Linked DNA regions of Homo sapiens. The protein of the gene in region 1 purifies or fractionates together with the protein of each later gene. This does not show direct contact. Each region holds a gene or a part of one and is shown in the gene's direction. Other genes may lie near its edges.

The links.
Region 2: the proteins of DTD1 (region 1) and ANKMY2 fractionate together in Homo sapiens (co-fractionation; one large-scale study listed by BioGRID). This does not show direct contact.
Region 3: the proteins of DTD1 (region 1) and KLHL24 purify together in Homo sapiens (affinity purification with mass spectrometry; one large-scale study listed by BioGRID and IntAct). This does not show direct contact.

Annotation. Positions count from the first base shown.
Region 1 is NC_000020.11:18,590,939-18,594,602, forward strand, and holds part of DTD1 (D-aminoacyl-tRNA deacylase 1), read left to right. Parts: intron 1-2,792; coding exon 2,793-2,883; intron 2,884-3,664. UniProt on the Homo sapiens protein: Possible ATPase involved in DNA replication, may facilitate loading of CDC45 onto pre-replication complexes. An aminoacyl-tRNA editing enzyme that deacylates mischarged D-aminoacyl-tRNAs.
Region 2 is NC_000007.14:16,625,255-16,628,918, reverse strand, and holds part of ANKMY2 (ankyrin repeat and MYND domain-containing protein 2), read left to right. Parts: intron 1-553; exon of another isoform or gene 554-639; intron 640-1,740; coding exon 1,741-1,879; intron 1,880-3,664. UniProt on the Homo sapiens protein: May be involved in the trafficking of signaling proteins to the cilia.
Region 3 is NC_000003.12:183,682,821-183,685,183, forward strand, and holds the end of KLHL24 (kelch-like protein 24), read left to right. Parts: 3' UTR 1-1,699; downstream 1,700-2,363. UniProt on the Homo sapiens protein: Necessary to maintain the balance between intermediate filament stability and degradation, a process that is essential for skin integrity.

The DNA of each region.
Region 1 (3,664 bases):
GAAGAGGATCTAAAATGTTTGGGTTTAACTAGGTTAACTTCAAAGGTTATGAATTCTTGAAGTAGAGATCTCAGGTCTGATGCCACTAGTAGGTAGAAAAATTGACCAAACATCTCAGTCTTTTCCAGCCCTTTGATCTTTTGTTCAAAGTGGTGATTCTCAGATTTTTTCCCTTGGTGATCCATTTACTTATAATAAAAAATCCTTTTGAATCTCCTAGTCCTTCTACTTGTCCCTGGAGGGGGGACAAAACTGCTCCAAAATAAGACAGCAGTCTCTGTGTCATATATAGACTTTGGGCCATAATTTGTTTCATGTTAAGATAATTATAAAACTGTCAAAATTCTTTGACAGTGATTCTAGAATCTAAGCAGATAATCCTAACTGTAGAAAAGGCTTTAGTGTACGAAGATTTTCACTACACTGTTATTTACTGAGGTGAAAATTTTGAAAGAAGCCATATGTCCAGCAAGATGGAATGGTTAATCAGTCTACTTGATGAGCTGAATCTATTAAAAGGTGTTTAGGAAAAGGTTATGACATGAAAAAATTCTTATGCAATATTATTATAAAAATTTATATGCAATGTTATTATAGTAGTTGAAAACAAATATGAATTAAAATGTATGAATAGATACAATATTAAAAGGAAATCATTAAAATATTAAAGTACTTACCTTTGTTCTTTTTTTCATGTTTCTCATATTTTCTAAAATATATAATCCTTACTTTGATGATAGATATAACTTCATGACCTTTATTTTTTAAAACATACTTTGGGAAAAATTTAGAAAGTATATCAATATTGTAAGAAAGTAATGTTGATTTATTCAAAGAACAAATAAAGCCAAAGGCTTTTTCTGAAGCAATGCAAATGAGCAAACCAACCCCCAATTGTTTACTGCCTATGTCAGGATAGATTATTTCTATTTCAGCTTTTGAGGCAGTGGCTCAAAGGACAATAAGTCACACACACATAGTTCATTATAAGAAAAGCAGCACAGAAGAAAAGATTTAAAAAATTTTAGCCTAAAAATAAAGAAATTAAGCATTACTGATATTTCAGGAATGGATTGATGTGCTCTGCTGGGATCTGAATAGCAGGTGGTCTCTTGCCATTGCAACTGAAGAAAGAGGGAAGTTTCTCACCCTTTCTTTAGCAGTGTATTGTAACATGACATAGTCTATGTTACTGTGTTAGTTATATTTATAGCTATTACCCTGCAGAAGCAAGCAAACAGCAAGAAAATGGCTGAGGTGACCCTTCTATTCCGATTAGCACATTAGGTCAGTACAAGATGAAGTAGTAAAATAACATAATCTAATAAGATTGGCAAATAATTGGCAAAAAATAGAAAATTTTCAAAAGCACCACTTGAAATACAGATTTAGCTGGGTATGATGGCGTGCATCCATAGTCCCAGCTACTCTGGAAGCTGAGGCAGGGAGGATTGCTTGAGCCCAGGGGTTCTGGGCTATAGTACACTATGCTGACCTGCTGTCATACCAAAGTTCTGCATCAATATGGTGAGTTCCCAGGACCAGAGGACCATCAGGAGGGATGGACCAACCTAGGTTGGACATAGAGCAGGTCAGAACTCCTGTGCTGATTAGTAGTGGAATTGCACCTGTGAATAGTCACTGCACTCCAGCTTGGACAACATAGAGAGATCCTGCCTCTTAAAAAGAAAAACAAATGAAAAAAAAAACAGGGATTCTCCATCATAAAGATGCATCTTTTTTTTTTTTTTTTGAGATGGAGAGTCACTCTTGTCACCCAGGCTGGAAGGCTGGAGTGCAATGGTGTGATCTTGGATCACTGCAATCTCCACCTTCTGGGTTCAAGCGATTCTCCTGCCTCAGCCTCCTGAGTAGCTGGGATTACAGGCGCCCGCCACCATGCCCGGCTAATTTTTGTATTTTTATTAGAGATGGGATTTCGCCATGTTGGCCAAGCTGGTCTCGAACTCCTGACGTCATATGACTGCCTGCCTCAGCCTCCCAAAGTGCTGGGATTACAGGCATAAACCACCATGCCCGGCCCATAATGATGCATCTTGCTACCATTTGAGGTATCGTCTAGTGGTAGTAGGGCATACATTTGGTTATAAATACATATACAAATGTTAGGAGTGTGTGCTTAGAGCCTTTTTTTTTTCAAATGGACAAGATGCATGATTGAAAAATATTTGGAGATCATTGGCTTAGAATGTAACCACAAAACTAAACTGGGAAATAATAGCAGTTTGGTGAGTTGAAGCTTAATACATAAATTGTGATTTTTATGTATTATGTATTTGTCCTCATAGTAAGTAGGAAAATCATTTATGATATGAACATTTTCCACTTTGTGCTTCCTGTATACTGTGTTACCATATTTTTTGATATTCTGCAAAAGGCAGGAATCTCTTTTCTGAGAATTAATATAGCTGAGCTGGCTTCTCTGGGGGAGGAAAACACAGTTCTGTTTTTATAGATGGGCAAACTTGACCATAGAAAATTTTGGGTGTCTTACCCAAGGTAACATAGATGAAATATGGCCCTAAGATCCTGCTTAATGGTTGTTCACTTTACAGCTCCCATTCATTCCAGAGATAAAATCAGAATGGATGGGAATTATTATCATCTCACTGCATTTATGTAACTCTTTTCATTTTCGAATACGTACTGACTTTAACCAAAGAAGTTATAAGAAGTATGTATGATGTTTAAAATACTCCTATGGTTACTTAAAAGTGCTTTATGACCTTGTTTGGTTCTGAGTTCTTCTCTCCCTTTTGGTTCCTTTCTAGTTGGAGGAGAGCAGATTAGTGCCATTGGAAGGGGCATATGTGTGTTGCTGGGTATTTCCCTGGAGGATACGCAGAAGGAACTGGAACACATGTAAGATGCATTTCTGTCATTGCTGTTTGAGTGGGCTATGTGGTGGTGGTCATGCTGGGAACTTCCATAGTACTTTGTGCCTGTGAGGTGAGCCCCTGTCACTTTTAACCATTGTCCCATTGGATGTAGTATGGTTATCTCCGTGTTTCAGAGAAGACCGAGGAAGAATGATTTAGGAGACCTCAACGCTAAGTCAGCCTTTGAGCAGGAGCACCGCCTGTCCCCTGTCTGTTTGCTACTGTGGCCTCAGAGCATGCCTCTTGTTCTCTTAACGCAAAAACCAAGCCTCTTTTCTTATGTTTGGTTTCTCTTTTTTAAATTGGGCAGTTATCTGGGCACTATGTATTTTTAGAATGTCTACTAGCTCGCTGTGCACATAGGGATCTAGAACTCAGAGAGGTTAAATTGCTTGCCCCAGATCATGCACACACACTTAGCAAAAAGCCTGAACCCCAGTTAGAGTCTGGGCTCCCTGACCTTGAAGCCAGTGATCTTTTTACTAAGGTGGTGGCGGGGGTTGAGGAGCAGGGGTTGCCATTGCTGCTGCCTGCCTGGCTCTCTGAGTTTATAGATGGGCAAACTCGACTATAGAAAGGTTTAGGTGTCTTAGCCAAGGCAGCACAGATGAAATATGGCCCTAAAATCCTGCTTAATGATTGTTCACTTTATAGCTCCCATTCATTCCAGACATAAAATCAGAATGTGCCCTCTGTGCACCTCCTCCCCTCCATTACCACGGGGCACATTTACTTTAGATGCTGGATCCATTTATTCTGCCCCT
Region 2 (3,664 bases), on another chromosome or scaffold:
TGTTTTGTTTAAACTAGAGGCCAGTTCTGTAGTCTGGGGATTATTCATTCTCAGAGCTAGATAACCTCTTGTTGTAGGTTGGATTGCTGGGCAATTGACTGCCCACCTGTTCTGGATAAACAGAAAAAAACAAACTCCATGATGAAGTCGGGGTCCTAAAATCTGCAAAAGAAACAGCTGTTTGCTTCTTTGTGGTGGCCTTTCTGATGGGCCTGTGTCCTTCCCCTACCACCCCTCAGGCTACACACTAGCTTCTTATGGACAGATTCTATCATCCTTTAGGAGATATCACCTTAGTCATGCTCGCGATATGGTATTGCCTTATTTAAAAGCTAAAGGCCATGCAGTCCATTCCTACTCCCTTGAAGCACGGCAATGAGATTTACCCACACCCACCCACCCACTCCCAGCATACTAATATTCCATCTCTGTAGAGACTCCCAGCTAAGGGAGTCTTCAAAGTTATCATCTGCTTATCATTTTTCCATTCTTACTCTCAAGAAATGTCCGTTGCTTCCACGGAGTTGCCTCTTGTGCAACTGAAAGGTCCCAGCCTCTCTATCATTCTCGTCTCCACAACCCTCTGAACATAGTGTGTACTGCATTAACAAGATGATGGCTTACGTTCATAATAATAATCTGGAAGCATCAAGAATAATTTACATTATGTTAGCATTCTAAGCTTCACTAAGGTAACGGATTATATGTTTTACAGAGCGTTTCATCCAAAACAACTTTGATGTTTTGGTACTTACAGCGTTTCGCCTACACTACTGAGAAAATTCACTCACACTAACAGCTCATCCATTTACCTACCAAATAATAGTAGTGCCTAGTACATAAAAGGCTGGATGTTTTGTTGAATATGCACAAAGCATATGGAGACCAAACAGTGTAGCCTAGCGTAAATACTACCAACCATTTTTCCATATATATACAATCACATATAATCAAATCATATGTATGATCAAAATATATGTGTGATTTGACCAAACAATATAGCCTAAATACTACCAACCATTTCTCTATATTTATACAATCACATATAATCAAATCATATGTATGATCAAAATATATGTGTGATTTGACCAAACAATATAGCCTAAATACTACCAACCATTTCTCTATATTTATACAATCACATATAATCAAATCATATGTATGATCAAAATATATGTGTGATTTGGGGAATCATGGTTTTAAAAAATGATACCACTGTAATATGCATTTCCTTCACCTTTTCTCATTGACAATAATTTGTGAAAAATGTTCCAGTTCAGTAGATACAGATGAATCATTCATTTAATAGCTTCATAATATCCCATGTTATGCATATACCATACTTTATTCAACTTTCCCCTTGAGAGGCATTATTTGAGATTTTTCTTCTTTTAAAAAAATATGTTTGTATCTGTTTGTTCATTTGCTTTCTGAGAAAGTAAGTATGTTTGGAAAATGTGGGTTTCAATCCCTGCCCCCACCATTTATTAGTCATGTGAGGTTGAGCAAGTCCTCTCTGAATCTGTTTGCTAATCCGTAAAAAAATCTCCAGTAATAAAACCATCTCTTCCTCAGAAGTTTATGGAAGATCAAAGTGTGGAAGCAAATATAAAAATACATATTATAATGACCATTTTAATTAGTTCATATTCGTTTTATGTTTCTAATTGCAGAAATTGTTCATAGGTACAGAAAAGATAAAACAGTAAAATTAATACTTTTTTCCTCTTTCTATTAAAGAATGGAATGACTCCTCTAATGCATGCAGCATATAAAGGAAAACTCGATATGTGCAAATTACTACTGCGACATGGAGCCGATGTAAATTGTCATCAGCATGAACATGGATACACAGCCCTCATGTTTGCTGCACTTTCTGGTGAAGTTTTAGTATTTATAAATATAAGTTACCTATACAAACTTGTTATAAGTACATATATACTAAAAGATTAAATTCATTTTGATTTTAGTAATTTTATGGTCAAGTTTTATGGAAAGGAATGATGGCAATTGGTTTTTGAAAAGCTATAATGCAGGAAATAAATTATATAGTGAATTTGGTGATTTGTTTCTTTTGTTATTTAGATCAATTGATTCTTTATGTGGACAACATTTTGATGGAATTGAGGAACTGGATCTGTTTTTCTTTCAAGTTACCTCCTTTGATGTTCTATATCTTTATATTTTCAAGTGACATGAAAACTTCTTTCTTCTCTTGATCAAACAGTTGCCATGACAGAGCCGTCTGTTTGCCTCACTGGCACTTATGTACTAAATATGATGATCCCTTTAGAAACTTACTCGGATTTGTATTGTTTATTATTTGCTGAATAAGGACAATTTAGAAATACTGTCTACAATTAAGTGGGATTATCTGTAATTGGTGCAGCTCTTTGAAAAATACAGAAGTAATATCCTTGTACTTTGAAGATAATAATCTATATTTTCATAATCCTGGAACCCAGAAGCACTTCTAAGCATTATATAAACCACAGAATCCAAAAAGGACAATATTGATAAAAATTTAACATTTTCATTTGTAGGATATACCATAAATAGAGTTAAAATACAAATGAAAAACTAAAAATCTGTATTATATGTCTTAAAAGATTATATTGTGAAATATTAAAAGTTCTTTTAGCTGGGCACAGTGGCTCACACCTGTAATCCCAGCACTTTGGGAGGCCAAGGCGGGCTGATTGCTTGAGCCCAGGAGTTCGGACCATCCTAGGCAACACCATGAGACCCCGTCTCTACCAAAATAACAAATATTAGCCAGGGACAGTGGCGCACGTCTGTGGTGCCAGCTACTCAGGAGGCTGTGGCAGGAGGATTTTTGAGCCTGGGAGGCAGAGGTTGCAGTGAGCTGAGATCGTGCCCCTGAACTTGAGCCTGGGTGACACAGTGAGACTCTGTCTCAAAAAAAAAAAAAAAAAAAAGACTTCTTATAAATCAAGTATAAAAAGAAAAATACTACAGTAGAAAATTGGATGGAAAACAAAAGAAATACCACTGGCTGATCAAAATATAAAACATTTTGCGCAGTAATCAAAAAAATGCAAATTAGAACAATAAATTTTATTTTTTAGCTTATTATACTGGCAAATGTTAAGAAAGAGCTATAATGCTCAGGAACTTCTTTACACTATTTGGGGGAGTGCATGTCAGTCCAACCTTGCTGGATGGCAGCCTGGCAAAATGCATTTAAAATATGCATAATCTTTGATCTGGCAATATTTCCCAGGAACTGTTCCTAAGGAAATCATAATTCAAACTTGCGAAAATGAATGGAAAATACTTTTCACTGAGTATAGTTCATAATAGCAAAATACCCATAATGACTACTTTAGTAGAAGAATGTGAATAGAATAATGTGTATGTTTAGATAGAAAAAAGGTGTAGAAAGATAGATGCCCAGTGGTTAATAGTTCTTCCAGAGCCTGTAAGTGTGAGGAATGGGATGGATTAGTCGATATTAAAGGGGAATCCTATTCATTTTATCTCTTTTTAAAAAATTGTTTTGTATGCGTATTTTGATTTTATAGTAAGTGTTACCTCTAGGAAAATATATTTCATTTTGTTTAAAAAGGCAGTATTCAATTCCATACTGCCTTTGCATTGCTTGATTTGTTTTCCAGAAAATAAGGTTAATTTCTAAGGTTCT
Region 3 (2,363 bases), on another chromosome or scaffold:
TTAAATTGCTGTGAGAACCCATATATGAAAAGAGAGGAGTTGAATTGTGTGTGCCTTTTATGTCTTGAGATTTATATGTGGAAAAGACGACATCTACTTCAAACTGTATTTTTTTCGTTTTTTTTTTTTTTTGGGGAAGGGGGGAGAACGGGGTCTTGCTCTGTCGCCCAGGCTGGAGTGCAGTGGCGCGATCTCAGCTGACTGCAACCTCCACCTCCCGGGTTCAAGGGATTCTGCCTCAGCCTCCCGAGTAGCTGAGACCACAGGTGCGTGCCACCACACCCGGCTAATTTTTTTGTATTTTTAGTAGAGACGGGGTTTAGTAGAGACGGATCACTCCTGACCACGTGATCCGCCCACCTCGGCCTCCCAAAGTGCTGGGATTACAGGCGTGAGCCACCACCCCCGGCCTGTATTTTCAGAGAGGAGAGCTTGGTGTTTTTGTGGTGCCAAGTGGTAAGATAATGTCTCTTTGAGGCTTCCTATGGACTGCCTTTATTTTAGTAAACTCAAGACACCAGTTAACCTCAACAGAGTTTTGGCCTTATTAGAATTTGTTGTGCATCTTATTGAAAGCCAGGTTTACATCACCTCACCCCATTATTCTTTTTAGTTAAATAAATTTACCATGCCAAGTAACCAGAATGGAGCAAATTGGTTGATCTTTAAGGCAGTAGGTTTGACTAGCTAGCTATCATTATTGTCACATCTAATGCTAGGCACCAGAAACCATTTGAGCCAGGAGTGTGAATGAATAATTCCAGAGACACTTTAGACATTTTTTAATGTTTTATATGAACATTTTACATTTGTGTGATTGCCTTAGATATTAAATTTTCCTAGTGCTGATAAAAACAGCAACATTCATAACTTATTTTATATATTGTTCCAAAGAAAAGAATTTGTTTTAATGGTTTCAAAATAACTGCACCTGAATTTGTTTATGTGCCTTAAGTTCTCTAGTGCTATTTCAACTTTTTTTTCAATCTAAATGAAGCTTACCTTAGATAAGGTTCATATTTGTTTCCTATAGAGTAAATAAACTTCCCCTTCTTAAATTGTGTAATAAGCACCAACGTGTGGTTGCTTGGCAGAATGAGAATGTTAAGGGAGATTGTTGGATGTTTGGAGTTTCATTATATTTTTTGTTTTTATTTTTTGATACCTAGGTGCTTTTTAAAATATTCAGACAAATATCTATCTTACATTGATTAAACCCGTGTAAATTCATTTGCAGTATCTACATCGAATGTCAAAAAAGTATACTTATTTTTGTTCCATACTTATGTACAATTTTTTCCCTCTTCAGGCTTTTTCATTTACCTTTTTGAAAAAGCACTTACTCTCCCCTTCCCTATCACCCCTCCCCCAAGGTTTCTTTATTTAAATTTTTATTGAGAGTTGTTGGAGCTCTAAGACAATACAAATTTAGAGTTGAACAAAAGTATAATCTGCTTTACAACTAGTATAGACCTAAGGTCATTTGCTTTCAATTAGAGGCTCCAGAGTCTTCATAGTGGAAAGAATGCTTTGTATTTAATTGTTCTTAGTTAAGTTGTAGCACGTGAATACTTACTTACATGTTTTGTTTAAATATACTTCTTGCATAGTTTAATTTTTTAAAAGTTGTATCTAATAAAATGTCTTTTAACCATTATTACTTGACTATATGGTTGTATTAAATTTTGTTTACGAAAAATTTGTTGTTCTGTTTTATTTTAAGTATATTTAAGGGGTTGTGCAAAAAAGAGATGGGGAAAATACTGGATATATTAATATATGTGTGTATTTACTGGTATGTCCATAAAATAACTGGAAGGATAAATAAGAAACTGAAAATATTAGTGTGTAAGAGGAAAGGAAATGGTGGCTGAAGGACAAGTAAAAATGAAACTTTACTGCATACGTATATGTGTGTAATTATAAATACATATAAAATCAATTTTTTAGTCTGAAACACACGAAAGTATTCCCTATTCAAAAAAAAAAATTTTTTTTTTCTTTTTTTGAGACGGAGTCTCACTCTGTCACCCAGGCTGGAGAGCAGTGGTGCAGTCTTGGCTTACTGCAACCTCTGCCTCCTGGGTTCAAGCGATTCTCGTGCTTCAGCCTCCTGAGTACCTGGGACTACAGGTGCATGCCACCACGCCCGGCTAATTTTTCTTTTTATATTTTTAGTAGAGACAGGGTTTCACCGTGTTAGCCAGGATGGTCTCGCTCTCCTGACCTCGTGATCCTCCCGCCTCAGCCTCCCAAAGTGCTGGGATTACAGGTGTGAGCCACTGCACCCAGCCTCTTCTATTATACTTTAAATTTTCTGTTTAAAAAAAAATGACCTGGCTGGGCACAGTGGCTCACGCCTG